Regions from separate parts of the Homo sapiens genome. Here region 2 is linked to region 1. The links come from fine-mapping of genetic effects on gene expression. A gene starts in region 1. The other region holds a variant in brackets. All regions are shown on one strand. Distances are between the middles of the regions.

Region 1 (16,228 bases):
AAACTCTTGCACAGGCAACAAAAGAAAAAATAGAAAAATTGGGCTACATCAAAAATGTAAAACTTCTGTGCGTAAAAGGATATAATCAATAGTGAAAAGGCATAGAATGGGAGAAAATATTTGCAAATCATGTATCTGATAAGTGGTTCATATCCCAAATATGTAAAGAACTCCTACAATTCAACAACAACAAAAAAAAAACCTGATTTTAAAATGGGCAAAAGAGTTGAGTAGACATTTCTCCAAAGAAAATATATAAATTGCCAATAAGCACATGAAAAGATGCTCAACATAATTAATAATTAGGGAAATGCAAATAAAACCACAATGAAATACCACTTTATACCCATTAGGATAGCTTCTGTAAAAAAACAAAAACAAACAAAACAACAACAACAGCAAAACCACAGAAAATAACAAGTATTGGCGAGGACGTGGAGAAACTGGAACTCTTGTGCACTGTTGGTGGGAATGTAAAATGGTACAGCTACCGGGGAAAACAGTATGGCAATTCCTTAAAAAAATTAAACATAGAATTACCACATGATCCAGCAATTCCACTTCTGGGTATATACCCAAAGAATTAAAAGCAAGTACTCAAATAGATACTTGTACATACATGTTCACAGCAGCATTAGTCACAACAGGCAAAAGATGGAAGCAACCCAAGTGTCCATCAGTGGATGAATGGGTAAACAAAATGTAGTATACATATATAATGGCATATTATTCAGTCTTAAAAAGGAAGGAAATTCTGACATATGCTACAACATGGATGAACCTTGAAGACATTATGCTAAGTGACAATAAAAGCGAGTCACAAAAGGACAAATACTATGTGATTCCACTTATGAGAGTGGTCAAATTCATAGAGACTTCTGTATTATAGAAGGGTTTTCGGGGCTAGGGTAAGGAGGGGAGTGGGGAGTTAGTGTTTAATAGGTACAGAGTTTCAATTTTGCAAGATGAAAAGAGTTCTCTACAGATGGATGATGGTGATGGTTGCACAATGTGAATGTACTTAATGCCCTTAAGAGTGGTTAAAATGGTAAATTTTATGTTATGTGTATTTCACCACAATTTTTAAAAAGCAAAAAATAAAAATAAAAAACTCTTAATTTCCCAAACCCCCACCCCATCAAATCTCCCCATTTCAAAAACAAACATGAAAAGCTATAAAGTTGCTCAGGCTAAAAATCCAGGAGTCATCCTTAATTTCCTTCCCTCATGCCCACATCCAATAGTAAATCATGTCACCTTTTTCCTCCAAAAATATTCTGAATTCATCCATTTATCTCTTCCACAGTTACCACTCTAGTTCAGGCCATCATAAGCTCTTGCCTATAATGCTGCAATGCTTTCTAATCAGTCAACCTGCTTTCATTCTTGTCCTCTACAGTCCCTTCTCTATATAGCAGCCAGAATGTTCCTTTTATGCTAGAAGTAAGACCTTATGCTTTTCTCTGCCTGAAAATACTCTGATAGGCCAGGCACGGTGGCCCACACCTATAATCCTAGCACTTTGGGAGGCCAAAGTGGGCAGCATTCAAGACCAGCCTGGGCAACATGGCAAAATCCCATCTCTACAAAAAATACAAAAATTAGCCAGGTGTGGTGCGTGTAGTCCTAGCTTCTGGGGAAGATGAGGTGTGAGGATCACTTAAGCCCAGGAGGCAGAAGTTGCAGAGAGTCAAGATCATGCCACTGCACTCCAGCCTGGGTGACAGTGAGACCCTGTCTCAAAAAAGAAAAAATATTCTGGTAGTGTTCCATCTAGAATAAAATCCAAACTCCTTGCCACTATCTACAAGGCACTAGACAATTTGGCTTCCATAAAAACTGGCCTCCTGCCAATGTCTCTGACTTATGTTCCAACATTACTCACTTTGATCACTATGTTCTAGTCACGCTGGTCTTCTCTCCGTTACTTAGTCACCCCGAGCACATCCCTTACCTCACAGTCTTTGTACTTGCTGCTCTTCTGCTTAGTACACCTGCTTCCCAGATCTTCACATGACAGATTCCTTCTCGTCCTTTGCCTCTCAGCTCAGATATCACTTTCTCAGAAACATGTTCACTTACCATTCATCTAAAGCAGCTACCCAATGACTGTCATTCTATACCATTACTCTCTTTTCTTTCACCTTGGCAATTACCACTACTTGAAGTTTGTATTTATTTGTACAAGTTTATTGTCAGCCTCTCCATCCTCCAAGTAAAATACGAGCTCCATGAAAACAGATAGCTTGTTTCTTTCCTCAGTTCCCAGAACTCGGAACAGTGTTTGGCACACATCAGTCTATTCATATGTTTGCCAAATGAACGAAGAAGTAAAAACCACTAGTGACCCAATTTTCCTGCCATGTCATATATATACATAAAAGTCTTTTGGGAAAACTCATATTTCTATATTGGCCCTCACTAATGTCTTTTCCATCTATTCTAGAATGCAATAACCAGTCTTTAAAATGCAAGCAGAATATTTCACATTTCATTTTTGCAGGTATCTCTGAGGGGAATGAATTTACATTTCTACTACCACAAATAGGATGGTCAAGTTTGTTGCAATGCAAAATTTTTTCTGTGGAATTCAAAAACTGTCCTGTACCTCTTGAAGCCGAATTGTGGGGTTTCACATTGGAAATTACACTCATCTAAAGAAACAGTCTGGACATTTAAGTCCTTAAACAGTTGTTCAAAGTATTTTATTACATACTTTTTCTAGTCTTCAGAATGTTTCAAGGTCCATTGTCTTCATGGCTAGTTACCTGTCTGTCCAGGCCAAACAAACTGGAGTTAAAATGCAGAATCACATAACAGCAGAAATGTGATTTCTCATTCTATTGTGCAATCCAACAGAATTGTGCCAAGTCTTGCTAGGCTGACGCTGCTCTACTCTGCCCAAATGCCAATATGCATTGGGGTGATGACATCCCACTTGGGATATTGTCTGATGACACAGACAGACTTCTCTGTTTCTCCACTCTTGGGTCATATAATTCAATGTTCTGGGGCTGAGGCAAATAATGTCTTACAGTGATTTTGGCAAGAAAAAAACAGCTATTTCAGATTTTGTTCAAGTTCCCCTAGTCATGTCAGACCCCATTGACTTCAGTAGGGATGGCACCATGTTCAAGAGGCTGAAGAAGAGACCTAGAACCAGAAACTGAGACATAAGGTTTATTGAGGGGACTTACAATACAGGGCAGTCCAGTGGCAGTGGGCTGGGCAGGAGAACCAAAACTCCTTGTAAAAAGCATGCAATTGGCCAGGCGTGGTGGCTCATACCTGTAATCCCAGCGCTTTGGGAGGCTGAGGCAGGTGGATCACCTGAAGTCAGGAGTTTGAGACCAGGCTGACCAACATGGGGAAACCCTGACTCTACTAAATACAAAAAATTAGCCGGGCCTGGTGGTGGGCACCTGTAATCCCAGCTACTTGGGAGGCTGAGACAGCAGAATCACTTGAACCCAGGAGGCGGAGGTTGCAGTGAGCCGAGATTGCACCATTGCACTCCAGCCTGGGCAACAAGAGCAAAAACTCTGTCTCAAAAAAACAAAAACAAACAAAAAACACCATGCAGTTTATATAACATTTTTACTTAACACCTTTCCCCTAGCAACCTCCACCAGGCAACCTTCATTTAACCTAAAACAAAGGGCTTTGATCGCCTCGTAGGGCCTGCATTCTACAGGATGGGCTGGGGGTGGGAGCAGTTCAGAAGTTCGTCATAGATAAGAAATGAAATATCTGGGTTGGCCACTCCCAGATTCCTTAGCTTGGAGCTCTGAACACACATTCTTCTTAGACCATAGGGTCATTCTTCAGGTATGCATAAGTTATTGCTGCCAAGTGCATCTGTCGGGTGCATCTGCCATACACCCCTTACCAGAAGCGTCCAAACACGGATTTGAGGGATCTACAGCAGACACTGGACAGATGCTCTGAATCATTCTCTACTCTGATGCTGAAGCTATAATATTGGACTAAGCTTGGGCCTTCTACTCTTTTCTTTCTTTCTTTTTTTTTTTTTTGAGACGGAGTCTTACTCTGTTGCCCAGGCTGGAGTGCAGTGGCGCGATCTCGGCTCACTGCAACCTCCACCTCCCAGGCTCAGGCAATCCTCTCACCTCAGCCTCCTGAGTAGCCGGGACTACAGGCGCGTGCCACAATTGGCTAATTTTTGTATTTTTAGTAGAGACAGGGTTTCACCATGTTCCTTAGGCTGGTCTCAAACTCCTGACCTCAGGTGATCCACCCTCCTCAGCCTCCCAAAATGCTGGGATTACAAGTATGAGCCACCGCACCCAGCCTATTCTTTTCTTAAAGGAGGAGGCCTTCCCTTCCTCAGGCAAGTAATTGCTGACTACTCCAGCCTACATAACGTCCAGACATATCCAAATCTGTGGAGAACACAAAGTTCTTAAGGTATTTATTTAGAGTCAATAATCAAAGTAAAACTAATAATTATAGCTAATATTTAGTTTGTAGTTAATATATGCTAGGAGCTCGAGCTAAGCACTACCATCCCAGGAAACTGAGGCTTAAAACACTTTTAAAATTTGCTCAAGCTCACAAGCTTGGAATTGAAGAAGAAAGCAATTGAATATTGGTCTTTCTTCTATCATACATCCAGAGGCTCTGCACTTAATCAATACAACATACTGTCTCTTATTGCACAAGTAACTACAAGGTTCATCTGTAAAATTCTATTCTGTAGAATAGAAGGGAAAACAAATTAAGGAATTACAGATGTTTATTCTTCTGAGCTTTAATTTAACGTATTGTTTGATTCAAATAATTTATATATTAGCTATCTATTGCCACATAACATAATACCTCAAAATTTACCATTTTAAAACAACCAACATTCATTATTTCTCAGAGTTTCTGAGGATCAGGAATCTGGGAGCCACTTAACTGAGTGGTTCTGGTCCAGAAGACTCTCATGAAGTTGCAGTCAAGCTGTCAGTAGTCATCTCGACACCCAACTGATGCTGAAGGAGCTACTTCCAAGCTCACTCAAGGTTGTTGGTGGGCCTCAGTTCCTCATTAAATGTTGGCTAGAGACTTCATTCCTTGACATCACATGGACCCCTCAAAGGGCTGCTTATAACATGACAGCTTGCTTGTCTCTGAGCAAGAGAAAGGGAAAAGAACACCCATGATGGACATCTTTTATAATGTAATTACCCAAGTGATATAAGTATCATCACTAATGCTGTATGCTTTTGGTCACATAGACCAATCCTGGTACAGGGATCATTCATTGGGTGCCATCTTGGAGGCAAGCTACCACATCTGCCAGGGTATGAATGCATTTAATCTAAAGTTCTAGCCCTGAACTGTAGGGTTATCTACCATATAAATCAGTTTTACATTTTTTAATATGTAAAATAGGAACATCCCAATTCAGAATATTGCAGGATAAAGGGCCTCAGGTAACTGATTAAGATTCTAAGCTCTCTTTCTCTTTTAAAAGATGAAATTTAAGGCTGGGTATGGTGGCTCCTACCTATAATCCCAGTACTTTGGGAGGCCAAGACGGGGGGATCACTTGAGGTCAGGAATTTGAGACCAGCTTGGCCAAAATGGCAAAACCCTGTCTCTACCAAAAATACAAAAAAAATAGCTGGGTGTAGCGGCGCGTGGCTGTAGTCCCAGGCACTTGGAAGGCTCAGGTGGGAGGATTGCTTGAGCCCAGGAGGTTGAGGCTGCAGTGAGCCAAGACCACCTCACTGCACTCCAGCCTGGGTGACAGAAGGAGACCCTGTCTCAAAAAAAAAATGCAATTTAAATAGTAATGGCATTCAGATAGTAATCACAGTGCACCTGGAACTGGACGGCACCATCTTAGGTTGCTCTCTGCTTTGCGCATGTGGACAAGCCATCTATGACAAATAGTTTCTTTTCTTCCTAAGGATATGCAGCTTCTTTTGTAGTATACTGCATTGTTTTCAGTCCCTTTCAGGAATGTTATCTGATGCCCAACTGATATTTCTCAAATGTTAAAATAAGACTTCTTCATCTTGTTTGGTCTGGACAGAGGTCAACATTCTTCTCATAAAAGCTTTCATTTCTTTTGAAGCATTAAAATAATATTTTAGCACACAAAAAAGGAGTTTATTTTCAAGAAGCTTTGCTTTCTTTTTCAGTTAGTTCTAGATAAGAACTATAACTTCACATAAGATGTTAGAAGGATTTAAGTACATTGCTGAAGGTATAACCATCCATCTTCAGGAAGTAAGAATAGTGAATAGTAAGTATAAAGAAACAAACAAGTCCTGTGATAACATCTTTATCATAATTTTTTTAAGTCTATTATGCTTTATGCAAATGTTTAGATTTCCTTGTTAAAAATCTGCTGGCCAGGTTAGGTTCCCTTTCTGTAGCTTTATTTTCAACTCATAATATAGTGACTATTAAATATTCTTTACTCAACACATTATATTGTAAAAATATACACTTAGTTCTGTTTCTATCACTAAGCCACTACTATTTTAAAAAGGAATATCTTGCATTGTTAAGTTTAGCAGCCCAAATTCTTAAAGGCCTTAGGAATGGTGCTGTCCAATAAGATAACCAATAGCTACATGTGGCTACTGAGCACTTAAAAAATGAGTCTGGCCAGGCATAGTGGCTCACGTCTGTAATTCAGCATTTTGGGAGGCTGAGGTGGGAGGATTGCTTAAACCCAGGAGTCTGAGACCAGCCTGGGCAACACAGGGATGCCTTGTCTCTGTAAAATAAAAAAAATAAAAAAATTAGCTGGGCACGGTGGCATGTGCCTGTAGTCCTAGCTACTCAGCAGGCTGAGGCAGGAGGCCCACTTAAGCTTAGGAGTTCAGGGCTGCGGTGAGCTATGATTGTGCCACTGCACTCTAGCCTGGGTGACACAGTGGGACCGTGTCTCCAATAAATAAATGAATAAATAAATATTAAAAAATAAAAAGTGTGGCTAGTCCAAATTGAAATGTGCTGTAAAATACACACTGGATTCCTTTTTTTTTTTTTTTCAAATCCTGAGAACCTGTGAAACACACTGAATTCTTAAGATTTAGTATGAGGAGGGGAAAAAAAGATCAATGATTTACATATAACAATGTAAAATATCAATAATTTCTATATTGATTATATGATGAAATGATCATGTTCTGGATATACTTGATTAAATATACCATTAAAGTTAATTTCATCTTTTATTTTTACTTTTTAAATATGCAGCATTGCCCAATAAAATACAGGACAACCAGTTACATTTTTATTTTATATATTCCTGCTTGGGACATAATATTTAAAAATTATTCATTCTATATCTGAAATTCAAATTTAACTAGGAGTCCTATATTTTTATTTGCTAAATCTGGCAATTTTATTAATATGGCTACTAGAAAAGTTAACATAACAAATGTAGCTCCTTATCCTATGGAACATTGCTGCTTTAGAATCACCTCGCTGCTTTTTTTTTTTTTCCAGTTAGCTTCTGAATAAACTCTGCACGGAAATAACTAATCTGTGGGGAATATTTAACCCTAGGCTAGGATCGTTAATCGTGAAGTTAAATTTTTACATCTGCATGAACAAAATGGCTTGTTACAGACGAAAATGTGGAAAGGGCATCTGGACTAGAATGAAAAGTCATAGCTCCCAGCCTCTCTACTAGGGTAGTTAACAGTCCCAGGTTCAAAATAATCCCCGTCCCTCTTATAAGATTAGGCGGTGTCAAGAGCAACTATCTGTGAGACCCTGGGCCAGTGACTTTCTCCTTACCTCCGCCCCCAAGTAGGCCTTGCAAAAAGCTGGGAGGGGTGCGTTTTCAACACTGGAGCTTCGCGGCCGCTCTCCCACTCGCTCCCCGCCCGGCGCTAGAGGAGCGAGTTCGGACTCGGACCCCAAGGCCTCGAGTCCCGCTGCCTTCCTAAGCCGAGCCCGGGCTACCTCGGTCGTCCCCAGCAGGCTTGGCTGGCAGAGGCCGGGCCTCGCCAGGTCCCCAGGACAGGCCCCGCCCGGGCCTCAGGTGCACTCCCGGCCCGCCCCGCGCCCTCGCGTCCCGCCCCAGCTCCGCCTTCGCCGGCGCCGCTCTGCCTGCCAGCGGGGCGCGCCTTGCGGCCCAGGCCCGCAACCTTCCCTGGTCGTGCGCCCTATGTAAGGCCAGCCGCGGCAGGACCAAGGCGGCGGTGTCAGCTCGCGAGCCTACCCTCCGCGGACGGTCTTGGGTCGCCTGCTGCCTGGCTTGCCTGGTCGGCGGCGGGTGCCCCGCGCGCACGCGCAAAGCCCGCCGCGTTCCCCGACCCCAGGCCGCGCTCTGTGGGCCTCTGAGGGCGGCATGCGGGACTACGACGAGGTGACCGCCTTCCTGGGCGAGTGGGGGCCCTTCCAGCGCCTCATCTTCTTCCTGCTCAGCGCCAGCATCATCCCCAATGGCTTCACCGGCCTGTCCTCCGTGTTCCTGATAGCGACCCCGGAGCACCGCTGCCGGGTGCCGGACGCCGCGAACCTGAGCAGCGCCTGGCGCAACCACACTGTCCCACTGCGGCTGCGGGACGGCCGCGAGGTGCCCCACAGCTGCCGCCGCTACCGGCTCGCCACCATCGCCAACTTCTCGGCGCTTGGGCTGGAGCCGGGGCGCGACGTGGACCTGGGGCAGCTGGAGCAGGAGAGCTGTCTGGATGGCTGGGAGTTCAGTCAGGACGTCTACCTGTCCACCATTGTGACCGAGGTGGGTGCCGGCCCCTGCTGGGGCTGAGACCAGGGCTCGGAGGACCTGTCGCGGTCCTTGAACCCGAGCTCCTCTCTCCCAGATGCGCACTGGACGCTGTCACTCCCCCTCCCCCAACGGTCAACACCCTAGCGATGGAGACCCTCCAGCCAGGTGGCTTGGGAACGCTTCACGAGGTGACCTCCAGCCACAGTGTGCTCCTCCCTGCACAGGTGGTCAGTCTGGCCTCCCGTCCTGATGGCCACTTTGAAGAGGGTACCAGGAAGGTCCTGGCGGTCCCTGGGCGATGCTCTATGGCCCTGTGTGTCCAGGACTTACTCTAGTTGGGGTTGGGGGTGGTAAGTAGCAGAGCCAGGACTTGGGCCAGGGGCTATCCCGTTTTTCCTCTAGTCTCTTGATTTCTTTTTAGAAGAGAAGAAATACTTCTCTTTCCTGAACTTTTAAAAGTTAAATAAAGCATGTGTATACAACTGCCTCTTCCCTTTTTCCTCTAGTTACTCCTTCCCCTACCGTCCACAACCCAAAAACGACAATCTGGTCATGCCCTGTAAGTAATTGTTTGCCTTTTCCCATGGTCAGTTGTCAGTCTTTTTTTTTTTTGAGACAGAGTCTCCCTCTGTCACCAGGCTGGAGCGCAGTCGTGTGTTCTTGGCTCACTGCAACCTTCGCAGTCGTGCGTTCTTGGCTCACTGCAATCTTCGCCTTCCGGGCTCAAGTGATTCTCCTGCCTCAGTCTCCGAGTAGCTGTGAGCCACGACGCCCAGCTAATTTTTGTGTTTTTAGTAGAGACGGGGTTTCACCGTGTTGGCCAGGATGGTCTCGATCTCTTGACCTCGTGATCTGCCTGCTTCTGCCTCCAAAGCTGGGATTACAACCGTGAGCCACCACGCCAGGCCGTCAGTTGTCACTCTTTAAGATCCATTCATCTGAAGATGGGTTCAGGGTGACTTGTTGACCTGGAATATTTTCTCAGGTATTATGAGGCAAGGCTGTCGGCCAGATTTAGTTAAAGCATACAGCCTTAGGTCATAGGGTGTAGGGGAGCCTTTCTCATTTCTCATCCCCTTGGATTTTCCCTCTGGGTGGTTTTGTCTGTCCCCTCCGAACCTGTTGGAGCAGTTGTTGGAGCTGGATGTAGGAACATGATGTTAATGATGTATGTGTTTTGTGTCTTTTTTAGACACTGGCACTCTAGCTCCCTGAAGTTTCAGCAGCATTGAGTAAGTAGCCAGTGAATAGCCCTCATTGATAGATAGGCTCACTAAATGTGCAGATGACCAATTCGCAGGTTAGAGAAGGCTTCCCAGAAGAGGAGGCCTCTCCGTGAGCCTAGGGTGTTCAGCTCAGCATAATAGTGAGCTGAAGGCCCCAGTGCAGCAGCAAGAAACCACCCAGCAGGACGGCGGAGTTCACAGAGAGGGGAGAGTTCATAGAGAGGGAGAGTGCCACAGGCCCTGGCACAGCTTCAAGCCCTGCTGGATGTTGGTGCTGAGCCTCCCCTCCTGGAGCCTCAGAGGGGCTTACAGGGGCTCTGGAGATCCCAACTGTGTTGCTTCTTGGCGTCATCACCCTTCAATGGAGTCTGAGAGCTACCCTGGGAGATCCAAGTGTGTGTGCATGTGTGTGTTTTTTCTTTTTGGAAATTTGATGTCCCCAGCATTTGGACCTGCTTTCTCCACATATATGTAGTGGGAGTGTGACCGGAGCCCCACTGGGATTTCTTAGCTAGTGACATAGCTTCAGTGTCCAGAGGCATCATGGCTTGACAAAAGAGGCACTCCTTGGAGGTAGCCAACTGTGCTTTCTGGCCCATGAATCCACAGGAAATTGGAACCTTCAGTTGCCACAAATCCTGGGTCCTAGCCTCACAGGTGGGTGTGTTACCTTCCCGGAAGCCAGTGAGTACTATGAAAGCAGAGGCTGTCCCTGAGGTTGCAGGCAGAGGCCACAGAGGGGAACATGACACAGGAATCCCTACAAATTCTACTTGGGGCTGCCTAAAGAAGAGGGAAGTAGTGAAGCAAGAAGAAGCACATGGCATCTCTTGGAGTTTTACATTGACCCCTGAGGGTTCCCCGGCTTACTCTAGTCACTTGTTCCTGCTTTGCTGCCTCCATCCCACATTGGGCTGAGTGATGGTGGCATTGATGAGCTCCCAAAGGCCAGCTGTGCCAGGGGGTCTGACCTTATCTTGCTGCCAATGTCAGCCTTTTGTTTTTTAATATTTAGACTATTTATTTAGCTGTCTTAGCAGTTTCAAAGGAGTTATGTGCCCTTTCACCTACTTATATGTTGTCAGTCTTTGCAGGGAGGCCAGATTAATGCTTAGATCTTTGTTTTGGGCTACTGGAATGCTTGACTTGAAGTTCAGAGCTGCTTGTTCCCAGGTGAACAGCTACTGCTGGAAGTTGCTGCATCAACATTCTAATGGCTTTTTCTATGGCCTGTTGTCTTTCAACCCAAACCTGGCCTGCTGACCACTGCATCTAGTCCCATGCCTGCTAAATGTCTCTAAGCCTGCCCTCTGCCCCAAATCATACATAAAGGTGTTTGTAAGTACACTGGTATTGAATTACTAGTCATATTTTTTCCACTGAAGACTGGAACCTCAGGTGTCCTGTTTGGATTTTTTTAATTTGTTCAAGTTAAAGTACATACATGTAGTACCAAACTTTGTGGTGGATTTAGATCTTTGCGTCTTCCTCAATTTCTGACACAATTCTGGATGCAGAGGGAGGTTCTCAGGAAAATTTTTATTGAATGAGTTAATGAATAATTTAAGAAATCATCTCTAAAGTTTGAGAACTAAAGAAAAATAGTTCAGTTCTTAGAAGGGAAACTTGAGGGTGGCTGAAAAGGATTGACTGGAATTTTTTAAAGGAAATGTGACTCCCCCTGCCCACTGACTGGGGCTTTGATGCCACATGGATGTGGAATGAGGTGTTGGGATTGGCAGAGGGAATCTGCTAGCAATTAATAAATAAATATTGGCAGGGCGTGGTGGCTCACGCCTGTAATCCCAGCACTTTGGGAAGCCAAGGCAGCAGGTCACTTGAGGTCGGGAGTTCAAGACCAGTCTGGCCAACATGGTGAAACTCCATCTCTACTAAAAATACAAAAATTAGCTGGGTGTGGTGGCACATGCCTGTATTCCCAGCTACTTGGGAGACTGAAGCAGGAGAATCGCTTGAACCCAGGAGGCGGGCTTTGCAGTGAACCGAGATCGAGCCTCTGCACTCTAGCCTGGGCGACAAAGCGAGACTCCATCTCAAAAGAATAATAATAATATTAATAAATAAAAATGATTTATGAGGTAAAAGAGTTTTATGCCCCCATGTTCCAGGAATAGTTTGGTGGTCCACATGGTTCTCGGCTGGCCTCTCCTCTGGCCCCTCAGTCATCCCTGGGGTACTGGGGAATTAGCCAACCCATCATGCAGTGCTTCTTGGCCATGGACTGCCCCATCTGCTGGAAACCTGGGTTGTTTCTGAGGTTGTCTGGGCTGTCCGCTCTTTGGTTTCACCATAGCTCTGTCCAGCCTATGGACAGACAGGTTCCTTGAGAAACTTCCGGCTGGGTGTGGTGGCTCATGCCTGTAAACCCAGCACTTTGGGAGGCTGAGGCAGGTGGATCACAAGGCAGGAGTTCGAGACCAGCCTGGCCAACATGGTGAAACCTCGTATCCGCTAAAAATACAAAAATTAGCCCTGCGTGGTGGTGGGTGCCTGTAATCCCAGCTACTCGGGAGGGAGGCTGAGGCAGGAGAATTTCTTGAACCTGGGAAGTGGGGGTTGCAGTAGCCAAGATCGCACCATTGCATGCCAGCCTGGGTGACAAGAGCAAGACTCCGTCTCAAAAAAAAAAAAGAAAAAGAAAAGAAACTTCCAAGCTGCTCTGCATCGCCTTGCTCTCCACCTGTCTGCTTCTAAGAAGCCCTCGGCCCAGTCCTGGGTGGGACTCCCACTCCCTCCCCATTGTCCTGGACTAGCTTTTCTATCAGCCTTATCTTGTGTAGAGACAGATAGTCTTAGAAGATGGGAGAGCCCTCACTGTTATCCCCAAAGCTGCCTGGAGGAAAAGCCAGAGCAACCTGGGAGCTGGGACCGGGGCTGACTCTGGGCAGCAGAGACCCGAGAGACCTGGAGCTTGAACCTCACTGTTACGCCTTTGTTGATTTCTCTCACTCAGGGGACACACAGACCCTCATCCAGCCTTTTGCAGCTATATGGCAAGGCAGAGAAGCCACTTGCGGGGTCCCGTGGCCCACTATGCACGTACATAGTAGACACATCTGGCCATGAGTGGTCAGATTGAGCCACTCTCTAGCTAGCTGACACCTGTAATCCTGGGTCAAATTTCTGACAGTTGACACAAAGCAGGGGGTCAGGGAGCCAAAAAAAAAAAAAATGGCCAGGTGTGGTGGCTCTTGCCTGTAATCCCAGGGCTTTGGGAGGCCAAGGTGGGCAGATAACCTGAGGTCAGAGTTCAAGACCAGCCTGGTCAACATGGCAAAACCCCGTCTCTACTAAAAATACAAAAATTAGCCAGGCTGGTGGTGCATCCCTGTAGTCCCAGCCACTCAGGAGGCTGAGGCATGAGAATCACTTGAACCCAGGAGGTGGAGGTTGCAGTGAGCCGAGATTGTGCCACTGCACTCCAGCCTGGGAGACAGAGCAAGACTCTGTTTCAAAAGAAAAAAAAGAGTATTCTGGAGATTGAAGTTCAGGAGTTCAGGGTTCATCTCGACTTTGGGCAGCCAAGCAAGAACTAAAGTATACCAAGATGTTGAAGGTTGATACCTTTTTATTTATCGATTCATTCACTCACCTATGTACCAAAGAGCTCCTGAGCCTCTCTTCTATACAGGGGGCACTGCCAGGAGTTGTAGAGGATGTGATAGCAAAGATAGGAAATACCTTTTCTCTTTGCTCTGACAACGGTGGGGCAAGGATTCATCATTGATTTCAGCAGGAGGCAGGATAAAATGTGTGTAGGAATATAGGAATACATGGCAATCAGTAACATGTGGTACCTAGCAGCATGTCTGACTGTTGATACGGTCAGGCTAGGTACATCCCCTCAGGGAAGAACTTCTGTCTTAGGGGCACACACCCTATCTTTTTTCCCTTCCTGCCAATTCACAGGTAAGAACATTTAGTCCCAGGGAACTATGTCATCTCTCTACTTCTCATAACTGAAAAAGCAGTGCCAATTATGTATGAGGTATAGGAGACACAATTCTCCCTCTTTTTAAAAATGTTTAATAGCTTTATTAAGGTGTAAATGACATAAAAACTGCATGTAGCTAAAGCATGCAATTTGGCACACATGTATCTCTACACCCTTGAAACCATCACCACTAGAAAGGTGCATTTCTCCCCAGGAAGAGGGGCAAGTCTAGGCCCTTTGCCAGAGTTGCTCCCAGATTGTTTTCAGGTTGGGCCTGCATTCACAGCTCAGCCAGCTGAAGGGTGACAGCATTAGACTCGTGACCCAAATCTTAAACCCACACATTCCATTTTAACATTGATACCTGTGATCATCAGCCAGTATAGCCCATCCCATGTGCCAGGCGGAGGCATCAATAAGCTGGTCTGTAGCAGCTTTAATCACAGCTGGGGAGCCAGGAGCTAAGGAATGCTAGACTCCTTTGTAAACAATTTAAGTAGGGGGTACTTAGCCTGGACTCTATGTGCTTCTCATCCACCTCTTCTCAGGGAGATTCTGGCCAAGTCCTGGAACCTACTGCAGTCCATCTGGTGGTTGACAGATATGTGGACGGATTGGCAGGCTGGGACCCAATCTATGTTTGCCCTTGTGTTCAGTTTTGAGACCTAGCACCTTTCCTGATCCTGCTCACAGACCCCCTGCGGCCAATAGGAAAGAAGTGTTAATGCATATTTGCTTTTGGAGGGCCCAAAGCCAGGCCCAGAGAGTTGTCAAGGGCGGTCAGTGGTGGGTGGATGGCAGAGTTAACCAAGGAGTTACACACCTGCCTAGACTAAGGACAGGCTGGACCAAGTAGAGAGGGTGGGGCTAAGGGAGCCTGAGAGATGCTCTGGGGCCTATCTCAAAATGAGCACTATAGTCACCCTGTCCCCTGCAGAGATTGTCTGACCTGGTTTTAGGTCACACCCAACCTTGCCAGCCAAGGAGTCTTTAGAAGCCTGATATTGGGAGACCTGTCCTGGGGTCTACAACCCCAGAACTCACTGCAGAAGCCCACGTGGATTGCTAGTCTAGCTCAGCCATATGGGTCCCCAACCCTCACCTCATGATAGTCCTGTGAGAAACCGCTGCTGACCCTTTGTTCATGTTTTCATCTTTTCCACTATAAAAGACATGCTAGCTGGGAAATAGAGCCCATCATACTCAAGAGTGGCAGGAGCCAGGTCCTGGCCCCTGAAGCTTGGCCTCACACACAGAGGCCGGCACCCTGTCATCAATTCCCTCAGCTTTTTCTCCGCCTCCACTCCCAGTCCTAGATTTAGCAGCCATGTGTGGGTGGGGGCCACTGCAGGGATACTTACCCACCTACCAGAGAGATGGCCTGTGGGTGCTGGCCCTTCTGAGGCTGTGGAGGTTGGAGGCTGTGGCAGCCTGGGCAGTCAGGCTGTGGTCCTCCCATGTTCTTGACTCCTGCTAGTCTGGGCTGCCTCCTGATTAGGGGTTGGATGCTCCAGTTCTTCCCTGGGTTGGGGATTGCCACCCTACTCCCAGCCCATCCAGGTTCACGCTTATTCCAAAGCGGAGCACCAGCAGTGTGCCTGCTGCGGGAGTTCTCCGTGTCCAGCCTGAGGGTTGCCTGCCAACCCCTCTGAGAGGTGCCCGGAGGCTGTGCGCCCACACTGCCCAGCAGTGCGGAGAAGCAGGCTTGTTTTTCCCTGTCACTGGCTTGGAAGAGATGCTTTGTTCTAGGGAGCCGCATGTCCCCTTGCCTGCGTTGTTGGTGAGGAGCCAGCAGGCTCCGTGGAGGGCAGGCTAGCAGCCTGGCACCAGGGAGGCAAGGGTCTGAGTTCCTAGGAGGGTGGTTGCTCATGTGAGAAGTCTGCAAAGGTTACTACTGAGCACCATCTCTCTGTCTGAAAAACATTTTTCATTTTTCTGTGAACCACTAAGTTTCCCGTTTGGGCTTTCTTCCTGCTTTTGGCTCTTGTTTAGGCAGGCGCAGCCAGATCCAAGCGTCTGGCTGCTTCCCCATGTCTTCAGACCTCTTTTTCTGTTCATGGTAACTATAGATGGAACCACACATTGGAAGCTGGAAACTCAAGCGGTGCAGCCTATTCCTTACCCCAATCCCTGTTTTACAAATGGGGAAATCAAGGCACAGCATGGGGTGATGCTTATCTGAGGTTGGAAGAGTTTTAATAGTAGAGTGGGAGCTAAAACCCAGTTTCTTACCTCCAAGCTCAGGACTTTCAGCTGTAATTGAGCCTAGTATAGTTGGTGTGCAGCATCAGGGATTCCAGCTCTAAAGGTCACAAAAAGGACCCGGGGGTCATTGGCCCA
Region 2 (16,821 bases), 66 kb before region 1:
GCATTCCTGGGTCGTTTCTGTCCAATAAGGAGGTGATGGAGAAAGGAGTTTGTCACCAACTGTCTTTTCATTTCCGATTTTCACAACAAATGAAGTTTCCTAAGAACCTAGATGTTGCGTTGGGGGAAGCGCAGCCCCAGGCTACCCAGACGCACTGCCTGAGTCACCTTCCTGCCAGGCATGGGAGGAGGGGTGTGAGGGACCTTGTTACTGGGCAGGGCGGGGCCAAATCTTGTCTGTTCCCTGGCCACAGACTTCTGGAGGCATCAGGAGGTGTACTGCCGTACCATATACTTGTGAGGTTTGGGGTCCTTTCCTGAGGCCCCAGTTTCTCTAAGACAGCAGATGGCCTCCTGAGGCTCATTGGGTGCAAGGAAGCACAGAAGGCGAAACCCCAGCTGGAAGCCCTGGCCCTCAGGGACCTCTCTGAGCACAGGGTGAGTTGGCAGGCAGGGGCTGTAGCCCCTCAGCACCCTGCGTGGTTAGTGGCAGGTTTTCTAAGTTCCAGGAATGAGGATGCACACACACTTCTCCCGCTTTTGCTGCTTCACATCTGGTAAGGACCTGGGTCAGGATACACCTTTCTTCTGAGGAGAGCATCCTCATGGAGCTGTTGCCTGCTATTGGTCAGGCAGGTAGGATTTCCCTGCTGCTAGTCCCTCCTCTGCCTCATGCTCCTCCCAAGAAAAACCTGAGTGGCCTCTGCTAGTCCCTTATCCCTTTCCCTCAGCACGGTATAGCGGTCATCAGACATTGTGTCTGGCCTTGTGCTGAGCACTAAGGTGTGGACATCTGGTGTGTGGAGCCTACCCTCAGATGCCCATGGGGCACACTGGCTGTGTTACTGAGAAGGCTAACATTAACCCTGGTTAGCAATAGGGTTCTGGAACCCAAATTCAAGTCCTGCCTTGCTTGCTATGTGACCTGGGATAAATAAATCACCCTCTCTGTGGGACAATAGGTGGAGGAAATACTCCAAGAAGGGGTGATATGATTTTAGCTGATTCTGAAAATGTGAGCAAGACCTGTCTAGGCAAGAGTATGGGAAATTCAGGTAATGGAATTCTCATATATCGGAGTGGCTGGAACTCAAGGGATGACAGATATGACAAATGAGACTAGAAATGGCCACAAGGGCTAGTTCATAGTGGCCTTCTATGTATACTGAGGAGCTGACTTTATTCGGAGGACAGTGAGAAAATAGTAAGCATTCTAAGGCCAGGTTCGTGCTTTTGGAAAGAGCTCACTCTAGCTGCTATGATAAACAAGAAGACCAGTGAGGAAGTTTTGAAACTCTCCTCTGCAAGAGAATGGTGGCCAGCCAGGCGTGGTGGTTGTCGAATCTGTGGCACCTGTGGGAAGTGGGCTCAGCCCAGGGACTGCCTTTGGATCCCCCAGCATTGGCACCATACCTACCCTGGGCCCTAAGGTGGCCATGCTTCTCTGGATTTGCTTCCCTAGCAGGGGCTCTAGTGCTTGCCCACTCCCTGCCCACAGCATGGCCTGGGAGCAGCTGAGACTGGGGGCCAGCTCATCCCGCGTCGATTCCTGGAAGTGTTATCAGTGCCTGTTATGGAGGCTGGACCCATGAGTGGCAGCCTTCCCTGGCAGCTGGGCTGACCTGTCTGCTTTTCCATTGCTCGCTGGTTTTGTTCACTGTAGGGCGTGAGGGGTGAGTAGCTGCTGGCCTCCAAGTCCATAGCTACTCATGTTGTACGCTGTTCACAGGGACCTCTAAGGATGTACATCATCACACATTCACACACATGCACCAGGATTTGCTTTTTTTGGCAGCTTTTCCCTTCCTGGCTTCCTTTTTGAGTGGTGGAAGTAAAATAAAAAGCAACTAGGGGCTGGGCACAGTGGCTCACGCCTGTAATCCCAGTACTTTGAGAGGCTGAGGCGGGCAGATTACTTGAGGTCAGGAGTTTGAGACCAGCCTGGCCAACATGGTGAAACCCCGTCTCTACTAAAAATACAAAAATTAGCTGGGAGTGGTGGTGCACCCCTGTAGTCCCAGCTACTCGGGAGGCTAAGGCAGGAGAATCACTTCAACCTGGGAGGCGGAGGTTGCAGTGAGCTGAGATCACACCACAGCACTCCAGCCTGGGTGACAGAGCCAGACTGTGTCTCAAAACAAACAAACAAACAACAACAACAACAAAAAACTGGGCTCTGGTGGTTGGGAGGAGGAGGGAAGGAAGCAAGTACCAGGGTAAGCAGGATGGATGGATGGCTCTCCCCCAGAGGGGCGGCAGCACACAGAGTTCTGGAGTCAGACTCAGTAGAGGGCCAGTTTTGACTCCACTGCCAACCACCTGGCTGACTCCAGGCAGGTTACATCACTGATGAAAGCCTCAGTTTCCTTGTCTATAAATTGGGGGTACAAGCGATGAAAAGAGGCTCAACATCACTAATCACTAGGGAAATGCAAATGAAAATCATAAGGAGGTACCACTTTGTACCCTTAAAAATAGTTACTACAAAAAGAAAAAAAAAACACCCAGAAATCCACTTTGGGAGGCCGAGGCAGGAGGATTGCTAGGGGGCAGGAGTTCAAGACAGCACTGGGCAACATAGTAAGACCCCATCTCTACAAAAAATAAATAAAAAATTAGCCAGGCATGAGGGCATGTGACTGTAGTTCCAGCTTCTCAGGAGGCTGGGGCAGGAGGATCACTTGAGCCCAAGAGTTTGAGGTTGCAGTGAGCTATGACCATATCTCTGCACTCCAGCCTGGGTGACAGGGCAAGACCCCACCTCTAAAAAAGTGTTGTTGTTGTTTTTAAACACAGAAAATAACAAGTGTTAGTGAGGATGTAGAGAAATTGAAACCCTTGTTCATTCCTAGTGGGAGTGTAAAATGGTGCAGCCACTATGGAAAATAATGTGGTGGTCCCTAAAAAAATTAAAAATAGAATCACCATATGATCCAGCAATACTAATTCTGGATATATGTCTAAAATAATTGAAACAGGGTTTCAAAGAGATATTTGTACACCATGTCTATGGTAGCATTATTCACAATAGTCAAAAGGTGAAAGCAACCCAAGTGTCCTTCCACAGACAAATGGATAAACATAATGTGGTATATGCGTACAATGGACGATTATTCAGCTTTAAAAAGGAAGGACATGCTACAACGTGGATAAACCTTGAGGAGACTACGCTTAGTGAAATAAGCCAGTCACAAGACAAATTATTTTCTGATTTCACTACAGGAGTAGTCACACTCACAGAAGCAGAAAGTAAATGGTGGTTGCCAGGGACTGGAAGAAGGAAGGAGTAGGGAGTCGTTGTTTCATGGGTATAGAGTTTCAGTTTTGTAAGATGAAAGTAGTGTTGGAGATTGATTGCACAACAGTGTGAACGCTTCTGAACTGTACACTTAAAAATGGCTAAGATGGTAAACTGTATATTATGTGTACTTTATCTCAGTTTTCAAAATGGGGATAATAAGAGAAGCCACCTTATCTGAGTTGTTGGGAGGACTCAGTGAGATAATGCCCCATGCCCCATCCGGTGGTGGCCAGCACAGAGTGTGGCACCAGCAAAGAGTGTGGCACCAGCAAATGGGCTTCCTAGGTGGTGGTGAGGAGTGGTAAAGGCAGAAGCTCAGCACCTTCTTTGCCTTCTCCACTGGCTGGGGACAGTGGGCATGGTGGGAGCTGTTCTAAAGTCCAGGTTGTGGCCTGTGTAATAGGTGATGGGACTTGCTGGAGGCTGAGCCCCTCTCCCCACAGTGGCAGTTCCAAGCCTCAGAGAATAGAACACAAGTCCAAACCCATACTGACTTGGCCAGTGCCAGTGTACAGGGCCAAGCCCAGGGCCCCTGAGAAGGTTCTCTGCATCCCAGTTGGCACAACACAGGTAGTGGGACTGTCCTCAGATTGTGTCTTTGCCTTATACTGCCGTGCCAGGATCTCCCAATGGGCATATCTTTGGGGACAGACAAGTCTGCCTGAACTGCCCCCCAACACCTCTTCACAGGAGGACAGGGTTAGCCAGGAACCAAGGATGGCATGCTGTGCTGTAGAAATGCCTTTCATAGTATGCCAGGAGGTAGCAATAAGGTGTCTGAGTTGGGGTTTGCGTGAGTGCATTCGTCTGTGTGTGTACATGTGTATAAGGTAGTTTCCTTCTTCAGGGGTTGATTGTGAGGTCCAAGTTTTTCAACCTGTGCAGTTACTAAGAGTCAAATTATTTTTCGTTTTATTTTATTTTATTTTATTTTATTTTATTTTATTTTTTTGAGATGGAGTTTCTTTCTTCGTTCTTGTTGCCCAGGGTGGAGGAGTGCAATGGTGCCATCTCGGCTCACTGCAACCTCTGCCTCCTTGGTTCAAGCGATTCTCCTGCCTCAGCCTCCCGAGTAGCTGGGATTACAGGGGCCTGCTACCATGCCCGGCTAGTTTTTTGTTTGTTTGTTTGTTTGTTTTTTGTATTTTTAGTAGAGACAGGGTTTCACCATGTTGGCCAGGCTGGTCTCGAACTCCTGACCTAAGGTGATCCACCTGCCTCGGCCTCCCAAAGTGTTGGGATTACAGGCGTGAGCCACCGCGCCTGGCGATTATTTTTTAACTTTATTTTGAAATAACTTTTGATTTAGAGAGAAGTTTGAAAATAGTACAGAGATTTCACATATACCCTTCATCTAGCTTTCTCTGATGTTAACAATTTAAATACGCGTTATGCATTTATCCAAACCAGGAAATTAACATTGGTTACAATAGTAATAACTGAACTACAGACTTTGTTTGGATTTCACCAGTTTTTCTACTACTGCCCTTTTTCTATCGTAGGATCCCATCCAAAATCCCATGTTGTATTTAGTTGTCATGTCTCAGTCTCCAATCTGTGATTGTTCCTTAGTCTTTCCTTATCTTTCATGATCTTGACATTTTTATGAGTATTTTGATGAATGCTCCTCAGTTTGGGTTGGCATGATTTTTCTCACAATTAGATTGCGTTATGCACTTTTTGGTAATGATACCTTAGAAGTGATGCATTCTCTGGGCATCATACCAGTGGGTACATGATGCTGATGTGTCTTATTACTGGTGATGTTAACCTTGATCATTTGTCAAGTTGGTGTCTGTGGAATTTCTCTGCTGTAAAGGTACTATTTTTTCCTCTGTCACTAATAAATATCTTAAGGGAGGTTCTTCGAGATTATACAAAATCCTGTGTCTCCTCAAATTTTTATTCACTGATTTTAGCATTCATCACTAGGTCTTGACTGAAACAATTATTACTGCAGTTTGCCTAGTGATGATTTTGCATTTTCTGATTCCTTCAACATTTATTAATTGGAATTCTTCTGAGAAGAAGAGCTTCCCCTCCACATCTATTTATTAATGTATGCAATTGTTAACTTATATCAGTACAGGTTCATACATACTTATTTTATTTCATCAGTTATAAACTAATGCTATCCATCTTTATTTTGTTGCTCCAGTTATTCTAGCTCAAACCAAGTTATTTTTCACTTTAAGGATAGAGAATGTAGATATCCAGGGTAAGGGCCTTTATCTGTCTCTGCAGTCAGGGCTAGAGGAGTCTGTGTTTACCCCTGCGGGAGGAGTGCCAGTCACAGCTCGTTGCTAAGTTTTCCATCAGGCAGCAGTTGAGCAGGAACGCAAGCAGGGACTGGTGGGACCTGGGTTGGGACTGAAGCTTCTGTTGGGGAAGGAAGTGCCCCAAGCAACCCAGAGTGTCTGATGCTGGGGTCCTCATCCCTGAGACCTACTGCAGGGGTCAGATCTCAGTCTCCATGGGCATGGCCCTTCATATATAGCCCTCAGGGCCAAGACCTCAGAGAGAAGAGGCCCTGCGTGTGAGGAAACCCGGCAGCCTCCTGCCCTGAGGCTAAAGGAGCAGGAAGGGCAACAAATGCTCTGCTCTGGAGAGGGCCTAAGTTCATCTGCAGGGCCACAGGGCAAGCAGCAGAGGCAATCCTGGCTCGTGGCCAGGGGCTAAGCATGGGCTGGCCTTTGCCTCAAGCATGTCCTCTTCTCCCATGGAGCATCATTAGGGTCTTGACCTTCCCATCAGTCCATGGGCTGGGAAAACTGAGGCAGTCACCTCTAAGCTGGATACCACTTCTGCCAGGTCTTGTGCTCCAGAGGCCCTGGGGGAACCTTGTGTGTTAAGGACCAGCCTTCTTTGCAGGCCACCAGTGATCTAAGACAGGGCTGCTGCCACACCGTAGATCCTCCTGTCCTCTTCTGCAGCTGGGCTGCCTCCTCTAGGAACCCTAGTGGAGCTGCTGGTAGCCCACTGGTAGTGGAGTTGATGGAGCCTCCAGCAAAGGGCCTGGACCTCTGGTGGCACTAGCCTTGTGCTTTCCTGGGAACTGGGGTCAGGGCCTGAACAGCAGTAGGACTTACTGATTCCCCACCCATAACCCAGAGGCGAGCCAGGTTATGTGGCGAAGGATAAGGCCTCTTCCCCTGCTAACGGGGAACTTCTGGGAGGCACTGAGAGCAGCAAGCAAGGGAATAATGAAACAGACTAACCCTCACATGCGGCTGCCACTATGTGGGACTTCACATAGCGGCTCTCAAGGATGCACCTCCCCTGGGGTCTGGGTAGGCCCCGACAAAAGGGGAAAACCTTCCGTGATAGGCAGGTTTGTGGAGTTTCTATCAGGCCTGCAGGCTGCCCTGGGACATTGCTCACGGGTGTGGAGACTGTCAAGATAGCCTGAATATTAACCAAGTTGATCATCCAAGTCCATACTCAGACCTGCCCTCTGGCAGATTCCAAAGGGGATAAGGTGTGGGGGCCTCTGGCTCCAGCCAGCCCGGCGAGACTTCTATTTCCAGTCAATGCTTCAGAAAGTAGATCTTGCCAGAGAGCACATAGAGGAGACTCAGGGGCTTCCCCTTGCTCTGGCCTGAATGTGCTTCCCTGTTTGTTTATCAGCTGCCTCACCCCAAACTGTTTGCCTCTCTGCTGTGTTCCTCTGACAACAGCCACCAGGATCTCAGAATATGCTTTTGTTCAGAGGCTGCTTCACCTGCACCTCCTGCCAAGTTTCTGGATAAACAGACTTTGTCCATCCCTCTTGGTGGGCAGCAGAACTCTCAGACAGAGTCCAAGGTGGCATTTTGACAAAAACAAGGCTTTGACAGGACTGGTCAGGGGGAGCTGCAGGTACCTTGGGCCTCTAGAAGGACTGTAATTCCTCCCTTATGGCAGGCTGCATTCAATTTAGGTGTAAGACTAATACAGGTGTGCCTTGTTTTCTAAAGCTGTGTTGTGGTTTTATGCATGTCTCTGGAGTCCAAAAGAAAGGCAAGGATCCCCATTTGGAATGAAGAAGGTGTGGAGAGAATGGACGTTCTGGGGAAAGGCTGGAATGACCCACATGCTCTAGCAAGAAGCACAGACAGTCCAAGGCTGGTGGCTCCTGCTCAGCATTTGCAAGACTGGAGGGCAGGT[T/A]CAGGCGGCAACTTCCAGAGCTTCCCCTCAGTGCTTGGTGACTGGCACAGACACGATGCCATTTGCTCATGTTCCCCTAATACAGACTGGTAGAGCTGTGGTGGATCCATTGTCAGGATGCAAGGGGCACAGCCAGGTCCCTGAGTGACCCTTCTCCTTCCCACAGCCCCTCCACTCCCATCCCTATCTTCCCACTCACACTCACTGGTTCTTCTGCTTTGGTTTAGCCTCCAATGATCACAGAACTCATCAGTGAGGCTTTTCCATCTGTGGTAGCTTTTCTAATATAAAGAAAGAAAGATACTGAGAACATTTTAAGGCTTAGCAGCCTTCTGGCTTAGTTGTTTGTAAATGAAAATATGAGTAGAAGAATTAAACAGCCAAAAAGATAACCCACAAAATGGGAGAAAATATTGACAAATCATATATCTGATAAAGGATTTGTATCTAGAATATAAAAATAACTCTGATAACTCAGCAATAAAAAGACAACCTGATTTAAAAATGGATAAAATCATTTGCCCATTTTGGAGAATAGATGTTTTGCCAAAGAAATACAAATCAATTAGCACATGAAAAGATTCTGAGACTTCGAAGTTAGCAGTGTGAGGAGCGCCAGCGCCATAGACCAGCTCCTCAGTGAAACAGCCATAACTGGTGAAAATACACACACACACACACACATTTAGAGTCTCTGGAAGTTGTCCTAAGGGCATATATTTATTCAAGAAAGTCGACTATACCTTGGCAAGAACAGTGAAGTCTATGATATTTGAGTCATAACTCCTTCAGCCCTCCCCTTCCCCTTCCTCCCAGCACAAGAAAAATGGAAGTTCCACTCTAGGTGGGTATGGCCAAGAAAATACTGTTCTCTCTCCCATCAGCTTCCAAGGAAGGGCTACAGCAGCCCACCAAGAGGGACAACCAATGCCCATCCCCCACCCATCCCTGTATTCTCTTAGCTCCAAACCACAGAAGGTAAAATCCTCGTGAGTGCAACCAGGGGATCATAGGTTCCCATCCTCCACCCACCGCCTATTCATATAGTAGAGACTCTACTCCAGGTGCCACAAGTTGAGAATATTAGAGCCTTGATTGCCCTTATCCCAGCTCATTCATACGGCAGAGATTCCACACCAAGCTCCCACTTCCACTCAGTGTCTGACTCATAAAGTAGGGGTGTCATTCTGAGATAAATGGGCCGCTTTCCCTGCCTACCTCTCTACAACAGGAGCTCAGATATTTTGCCCAGCGGGGAGAGATAATCCAAAAGAACAGAGTTCTAAAGCTGTCCCCACAGGAACGAACTTTATTTGAAATAGAGTGTGTGAAAGGACAGCCTAAGATTGCTCTCAAGAACAATGGAGAATTTAGTGGTAAGCAACTAAAAGGATTCTGGTAACTCCATTAGAGCAACAAATGAACCCATAATGCAGCTAGTTTACCAGGAAAAAACAGAAAACAAACAAACAAACAAAACAAGAAAGAGACAGCTAAGAGCAGCCCTTCTGGAGTCAAAACAAACCTTATAGATTTGCCTCAAAAACTACCACTGCAAAGAGGCTTGACGTCAACTGGATTAGACTGTGGGACAATATATGCCCCCAGGGCATTATTGAAATGAATGAGGCAACTGGCTAGCAATTAGTGAGGCTAACAGCTGGGTGTGATACCAGCAGACACAGACAGCTTAATAGAAAGATCAGACTGGCGTGGTGGCTCATGCCTGTAATCCTAGCACTTTGGGAGGCCAAGGCGGGTGGATCACCTGAGGCCGGGAGTTTGAGACCAGCCTGGCTAATGTGGGGAAACCCCATCTCTACTAAAAATACAAAAATTAGCTGGGCATGGTGGCAGGTCCCTGTAATCCCAGCTACTCAGGAGGCCGAGGCAGGAGAATTGCTGGAACCCAGGAGGTGGAGGTTGCAGTGAGCCGAGATCATGCCACTGTACTCTAGCTTGGGCAACAGAGTGAGACTTCATCTCGGAAAAGAAGAAGAAGAAAGATCAGGGAAATGGGGGTGGAAGAATGTGACAGTACCTAATTTCTACAATATATTATCTAAAATGTCCAGTTTTTAACCAGAAATTACGAGATATGCAGAGAAACAGAAAAATATGACCTATACATGGGGGGAAAACGTGGGCAACAGTAACTGCCTGAGAGGGTCCACATGTCAGATTTTAACAGACTTTAAGGCATAAGGCAGCCATTATAAATATGTTCAAAGAATGAAAGGAAGTCATGCTTTTAAAAGTATGATGACAATATTGCATCAAATAGAGAATAGCAATAAAGAGAGAAAAATTACATTTATATTTTTAAAAGCTGAGCCAGACATGATGGCATGTGCCTATAGTCCCAGTTACTCAGGAGGCTGAGGTAGGAGGATTGCTTAAGCCCAGGAGTTCAACCCCAGCCTGGGCAACAGAAAGAGACCTTGTCTCTTAAACAAACAAAACAACTGAATAGAACTTCTGGAGTAAAAGTATACAATAATTGAAATTTAAAAGTAACTCAAGGGCCTTAACAGAAGATTTGAACAGGCAAAAGAAAGAATCAGCAAACTTGAAGATAGAGGATTGGAAATTATGCAATCCAAAGAACAGAGAGGAAAAAGGGAATAAAGAAAATGTATAGAGTCTCAGAGAAATGGGGAACACCATTAAACATAGCAATATATGCATAATAGAATTACTAGGAGAGGAGAGAGAGAGAAAAGGGCAGAAAAAATGCTCAAAGAAATAATGACTGAAAACTTCCCAAATTTGGTGGAAAACATTAATCTACACCTTTCAGAAGCTCAACAAACTCCAAATAGAATGATCACAAAGAGATCCACACCCTGATATATCATGGTAAAACTGCTTAAATAAAAAAAGAGACAAAAACGAAGGGAAAATTTTGAAAGCAGCAAATATATGACTAGGTACATACAAGAGAACTCCAATAAGATCAACGTTTGACTTCTCATTAGAAACCATAAAGGACAGAAGGCAGTGGAGTGGCATATTCTAAGTGCTGAAGGAAAAAAGAAACTGTCAACCAAGAATCATGCATCCAACAAAACTGTCTTTCAAAACTGAGATAAAGAAATTCAAAAATACACAAAACTTGAGAGAATTGTTTCTAGCAGTGATGTCTTACAAGAAATATTAAAGGAGGCACTTCAGAAATAAATTTAACCAAAAATTTGCAAAATGTATACTTTAAAAACTATAAAATGTCATTGAAAGAAATTCCAGAAGGCCTTAACAAGTGGAAAAGCTTCCCATGTTCTGTTCATGGAGCAGAAGACTTATTGTTAGTATGGCAGTGCTCTCCAAATTGATCAATAGATTCAATGCAAAAGATGTTCAACATTAGTTATTAGAGAAATGCAATCAAAACCACAATGAGATACCTCTTTACACCCACTACAATGACTAAAATTAAAGACACACAATAACAAGTACTGGTAGGAATGTGGAGAAATTGAAACCCTCATTCATTGCTGTTGGGATTGTAAAATGGTGTAGCCACTTTGGAAAGCAGATTAGGAGTTCTGCAAAAGGTTGAGTATATACTTACCGTATGACCCAACAATTTCACTACTATGTATATACCCCAAAGAAATGAAAACATGTACACACAAAATGTTGTACATGAATGTTCACAGCAGCATTATTCATAGTAGCCAAAAAGTGGAAACAACCCAACTACTTATCAACTGATGAACAGATCATTGAAAACGTGGTAGACCCAAACCGTGAAATATATATATATATATATATATATATATATATATATATATATATATATATATATATATAGTTGTTGTTGTTGTTGTTGTTGAGATGGAGTCTCACTTTGTTGCCCAGGCTGGAGTGCAGTGGTGTGATCTCAGCTCACTGCAACCTCCACCTCCAGGCTCAAGCAACTCTCCTGCCTCAGTCTCCCAAGTAGCTGGGATTACAGGCACGTGCCACCGTGCCCAGCTAATTTTTGCATTTTTAGTAGAGACAGGGTTTCACCATGTTACCCAGGCTGGTCTTGAACTCCTGACCTCAGGTGACCCACCCGCCTCGGCCTCCCAAAGTGCTGGGATTACAGGTGTGACCCACCGCACCCAGCCCAAACCATGGCATATTATTAAACCATAAAAAGTAATGAAGTGCTGATACACTGCACAATGACATGGATGGACTTAGAAAAGGAGCTAAGTATAAGAAGCCAGTCATAAAACACTATATATTGTATGATTCCATTTATATGAAATGTCCAGAATAGGCAAATTCATAGAGACAGAAAGTAGATTAGTGGTTTCCAGGGGCTAGAGGAAGTAGCGAATGAGGAGTGACTGCTAACAGGTATGGGTTTTCTTTCAAGGGTGATGAAAATTCTAAAATCAGATCATTGCTGATGGTTGCTGAAGTCTGTGAATATACTAAAAATGATTGATTTGTATACTTTAAAAGAGTAAATGTTATGGTGTATAAATCATATCTCAATAAAGTTGTTACAAAAAAGTAATTAACTAGCCATGTTTGTTTTTGTTTTTCTTTGTTTTGTTTTTTCATATTGTCAAGGAATTCCCAGCTTTAAGTCACAATCAAGTGACAAAGATAGAACTGGGGTGGATGTATAGTCCATTATTAACTACTACTTCTTACTTTTCTCTAGAATAAAGGATAACTATGAGAGGATACTATAGAAATCAATCTTTTATTCTTAAAAGGACCATTGCTAATTTTTCACTCACAGTCATCTCTGGGATTGAATTCCATTTATCAAATCCCTTTTATAAGAGCTTTTCTAGCTTTTAGTAATGGACTGGAATAATTTTTATTTCTTAGAATTTCTTTCTCTTAGTCAGATTTAAGTGTAACCTGCTTTGCTTATTCGTCCATGTGTTCCAAGTCATGATTTTGCTCAGGACAAATAAAATGCTCTACTAGTATGAGCCTGGTAGAAAGGGAACTACCATTTAATGAGGCCTGTAATGTGTCAGACGCTCCACTGATATTTCCCATCCAATGCACACAACAAACCTAGGAGCAGGTATTATTGTCATCTTTTTGAAGGTGAAGAAGCAGGCTAATAGAGGTGAATGGATTGCCCAACATCACACAGTCCAAAGTTGCAGACCCCGAGAAAGCCTGTGTTCTTTGCTGAACACCAGGCTACCTTCCAGCGTTCTCAGTTCCGTGCAGGTCAGACGGGGTTCACTTATCTTTATGGTCCTTTATAGCTCTGGTAAAAACTAAAACTGCCAGACTTTGGCTACTTGGAGAGTTAGTTCAAGGCTGAGGGTGATTTTCCAAGTGCAATGCGTGATACTCCTCAGCCCAAGAACCACATTTTCCAGGCTGATTTTCTATGACTCCTAATTAATTGTTCAATATTCATTCAACAATTTGTTAAGCACCCACTGTGTGCCTAGCACTGTGCAAACACTAGTCATCTAAAATATGATTATACGGATTATTCAGGTTTTAGAACTCTGTCCTTCTGCTGGAGGATGGTGAGGAGGGGGTGCCTCTTTCCTCTCTAGCCAAAGAGCAAGGGTGAAGTGGCCCAGAACAGCGCCCACCCCACCCAGGGCTGCTGGCCTCATGCATGCACATGTGCACATCTGTCCTGTAAAGTATGCTTGACCTTGAGCTTTGTGAGGGCAGGGACCATGTCTTTCTTGTGCCCTACACAGAGCCTGGCCTGGAGCAGGTAGGTGCTGAATGTCAGTTGAATCAATGATTAAGCAATTTTTTTTTTTTTTTTTTTTTTTTTTTTTTTTTTTTTACCAATTCACTAGGAGAACTTGGGCTGGTTGCTTTATTGCTCTGTGCCTTCATTTCCTCATTTGTAAAACAAGGATAAGAGTACCCATCTCACATGCCAACCCTGAGATCCCCTGAGATAATACACGGCACTCAGTGAGCACTCCACACACTGTTACTGTCTTTCCCATTACTCCCTTTACTATAGGGAGCCATGGGAAGCGGCACATCCTTCTATGCCAAGAGTGACCTCCTATCCCCTATTACCTTGTCACCTGGATTTTTGTTTCTTAAATTAGAGCTGAAGGCCATGCGGCCCAGCTAAATGGAGCTCACTCTGCTCTGTTGTGAGAACCTTGGTCTGGGACCCTGCTGATGGGACAGACATAGTAACCCCGGGAGGCCCCATCAGAGGGGCAGGGAGAGGGGAGGTAAGCTATGTTTCAGAAATGTTAGGATTTGACTTGAAAGCACACCCCCAAAGCAATGCCAGCCAGCTCCTTACCAGGACATCTGCCATTAGCCTCTGAGCTGGTCATGTGTATGTATGTGTGTGTGCATGTATGTACAAACATGTGCAGGGACCCACAGGGACAGGTCTGTCCCATCAAGGAAAACACTGTCTCCCACTGGGCCCGCCATGTCACTGTTAACCACAGGGAGGTTTTGTGGCCCTGGCTAGCGGAGACCCAAGACATATCCCTCAAACCTGAAGGGCCCAGGGGCAGGCAGGGCCGGTTTCCTAAGAAAAGCCTTTTCTAAAGGACCCCTCTTAGGACTGGCAGCTGATTTACTGGACTCTAGCCCTTCGCTCCAGGTAGAACTTCATCTGCCAATCCTGTGTCCTAATACCAGGCCCCTCACAGCTTTCCAAAAAGACACTTGCGGCACCATAACTCCCCAAAGGAGAGCCCAGCCCTAGAATCAACCATGGGCAGCCATGCAGTCTAGCTGCCTTCCCCTGCTGGTTGTAAGCAGGGTCTCCAAAGGCAGATGGCACCCCTCATGGGCTTGGGGCAAACGGCCACTGCGTGTGCATGGCTCTTCCTGTGCTGCATGATGCTGACAGGGCTTCTTGGGCCCCTCTTCAGGGAGGGAATGGGACCGAAAGCCATCGATGCAGAGCCTACAGGAAGGAGAATGATGGGAGATGGCCCTCACCTCACCCCCCTTCCCAGTGTCCCCATTCAGAACTCCTGCATCTGCTTCATTTCCTGGAGGCCAGGTTTGATCCCCTGCCAGGGCCAGCTTCATGGGCATGCAACTGTGCAGTCACACAGAGCGCCACACTTGGTTTCAATGCTTTGCCATTGCTGTATTGAAATTCTTAATAATTTTTGACCAAGGAGTTCTGCATTTTCAGTTTGCCCTGGACCTTGCAAATTAAGTAGCCAGTTCCCAGTCCTACCCTTTGCTCATGCAATGCCTGGCTCCACATCTAACAGCCTTCCATTCCTTTCTATCTCTAAATCCTATCTATCCTGCCCTAAGGCAAAGTCCAGACAGAAAAATATTTGACAGACTACAAAGGAGAGCACATTATATTTGAAAGAGCTTTTCTGCTCAACTGCAGATGGAATGATGATGGTTGGCATGTTAATGCCTCTACCAATCTTGAGTTCTTCTTGGCTCAGTCTGAGGCTAAAGGCTGTGATGGAGGCCTTCTACTCCTAGTCCTGGGTAATTGTCTCCTGGTATCACATTCCTTGAAGAAGTGTAGGGCATCATATTTAATAAGCTCATTTTGTCCTGCCTTAGGGAGTATAGGTCCAAAGCAGGACACTGGTACAAGATTGGGTTCTGAGGCCCAAGTAGGTATCTATCATGCTCATTTACTTGCTATGACTTCAGACAAATCCCATTCTCACAGTCTCAGTTTAATCTTCTGCAAAATGGGTCACACCACATCATGAGGCTTTGGGCCTCAATTGCTCATCTCTCTAAGTCAGAAGCAGAACCCAAGCTTTTATCTGAAGCTTTGGACAATTATTTTTGGAGGGAGATGGCCATGAATGCAGGCACACGTCCTGTTTACCACTTCCGGTCTATGGACTGGCAGAACACATTAATCTGGCCATACAGTTTTAGAGGATTCATTTCCCTTTCTCCTGAAGCCCATGCAAGAGCCCCAGGCGAGGCAATCCTGCTCTGGGTACAGTCTGAGATTTATCCTTGGATTGTGCCTGAGCAGCAGAGCGCTAACTTCCTGGCCCGAGTTGTTTTTCTTCTGCAGAGCTGTGTTGGGCGTTGCCTGTGGCCAGCATTTGAGCACTGTGACAGGCGGCCTCATGAATCTTGCTATTGTCTCTAGGACAGGACTATTCTCGAGGACATTATCCTCAGCATCACAGAGTGGCTCCTTTGTGGAAGAAGTACATAGGAGACACTTCTTTCGGATCTCAGTATTCAGAACAACTGTGCTTCTGCGAATAAGCAGACTACTTCGGATACTGTAACCCTTCTGAGAGCTGAGCTGCTGGGATACGCAGAGCCAGTTTTGGAGCCCCGTCTGGCAAGCAGGCAGGCCCGTGGACAGGATAGTCTAGGGTCAGTCTTACCCCAGGCTTGGTTTTTGCAACTTCCCTCCTCTTTATTTTCCATTTTCCCCAATTCCCTTAGCTTTTTGTTTTACATTTTTCTCTTGTGTGTGTCTTTATAAACACCTCTGTCTGCTGCAGAATAAGGTGTGATATAAATATGTGAGTTTGTGCTTAAATCCACCACACTTTCAAGGGAGTTGTGAGGATTCAGAAGGAATTGTTTGGCGAATGCAGTAAAAGCAGCCCCATCCAAGATGGAGCTAGGGCTGGGTGGGAGGCAGGGGTCTTTCCTCCAGACTGGATCATCTCGCCACAGACAGCAGCCCCCAAAACCCAAGCCCAAAGTGCTCATTGGCATCTGTTTGTTTATTTATTTGTTTTTAATAAATGAAAGGTCACTAAACACACTTTGAAATTTTTGTCACCTCCCTTGAGATGTTGCTTAATTGACTTAAGTCAAACTGAAACTCTGGCTGAAACTCATTTTGTAGATGCACTGGCAGGGACTTGTTAGGGCAGCAGCATCCCACAGACCCTAGGGAATGGGAGGGACCACACTTCTGGAAAGACTGGATGGGAAGGAGGGTGTAGGGATGTAGGAGGGGAGCTAGGGAGCCCTGGAGAGGAGTAAGTAGGCCCCAGAACGATGGGGCCCCGAATCAGGCCACAAGCTTGGCCTAGGCGTGAGTGGACCAGGGACCACATGATTTCTCAGAGGGGCCTGCTCAGAAAATAAAGTCACAGAGCTCCTGGAACCACTTGCACTTTTCAACAAGGGAAAAGAAATTTTACGCCTGGACCAAGTGGCCATGCCCTCTGCCCTGCCCTTTGGGCTTTTCAAACACCTCCCCTCCGCACTAGGCTGGCTTCTGAAGATGCAGTGCCACCTTTACTTTGGACTGCCTCACAGCTGAGGGGTCACCAGTCACAGCCATGGCCTTGGCTGGCTTCTTGCTATGTAATGCGAGCGGAGTAGGAGCATCACCCTCCCTTTCCAAAGAGGATCCTGAGTTTCAGGGAGGGCAGTGACCTGCCCCAGGTTACTCTCCCCAGTCCCGGCACAGGCCAGTCAAACCCA

Evidence for each region. PIP is the estimated chance that this variant, and not a neighbour inherited with it, causes the effect.
Region 2: its variant is fine-mapped to the expression of SLC22A5 in whole blood (INTERVAL, PIP above 0.99).

The regions. Positions count from the first base shown.
Region 1 is chr5:132,361,647-132,377,874 of GRCh38, forward strand. It overlaps SLC22A5 (solute carrier family 22 member 5), which reads left to right and starts at 8,064. Exons shown (of 10, transcript NM_003060.4): 1 at 8,064-8,719. The coding sequence starts at 8,327. MIR3936HG (MIR3936 host gene) reads right to left here and starts at 8,270. Exons shown (of 8, transcript NR_110997.1): 1 at 8,198-8,270; 2 at 4,922-5,135; 3 at 3,289-3,381. It overlaps MIR3936 (microRNA 3936), which reads right to left and starts at 3,953; the gene lies at 3,844-3,953. RefSeq lists a silencer at 7,947-8,266 and an enhancer at 14,957-15,458.
Region 2 is chr5:132,295,185-132,312,005 of GRCh38, forward strand. All of the region lies in intron 1 of SLC22A4 (solute carrier family 22 member 4), which reads left to right. MIR3936HG (MIR3936 host gene) reads right to left here. Exons shown (of 8, transcript NR_110997.1): 8 at 16,092-16,821. Among named protein-coding and RNA genes, the nearest start is that of SLC22A4, 9.2 kb to the left of the region's middle. The variant T/A (reference allele first, on the strand shown) is at 7,447.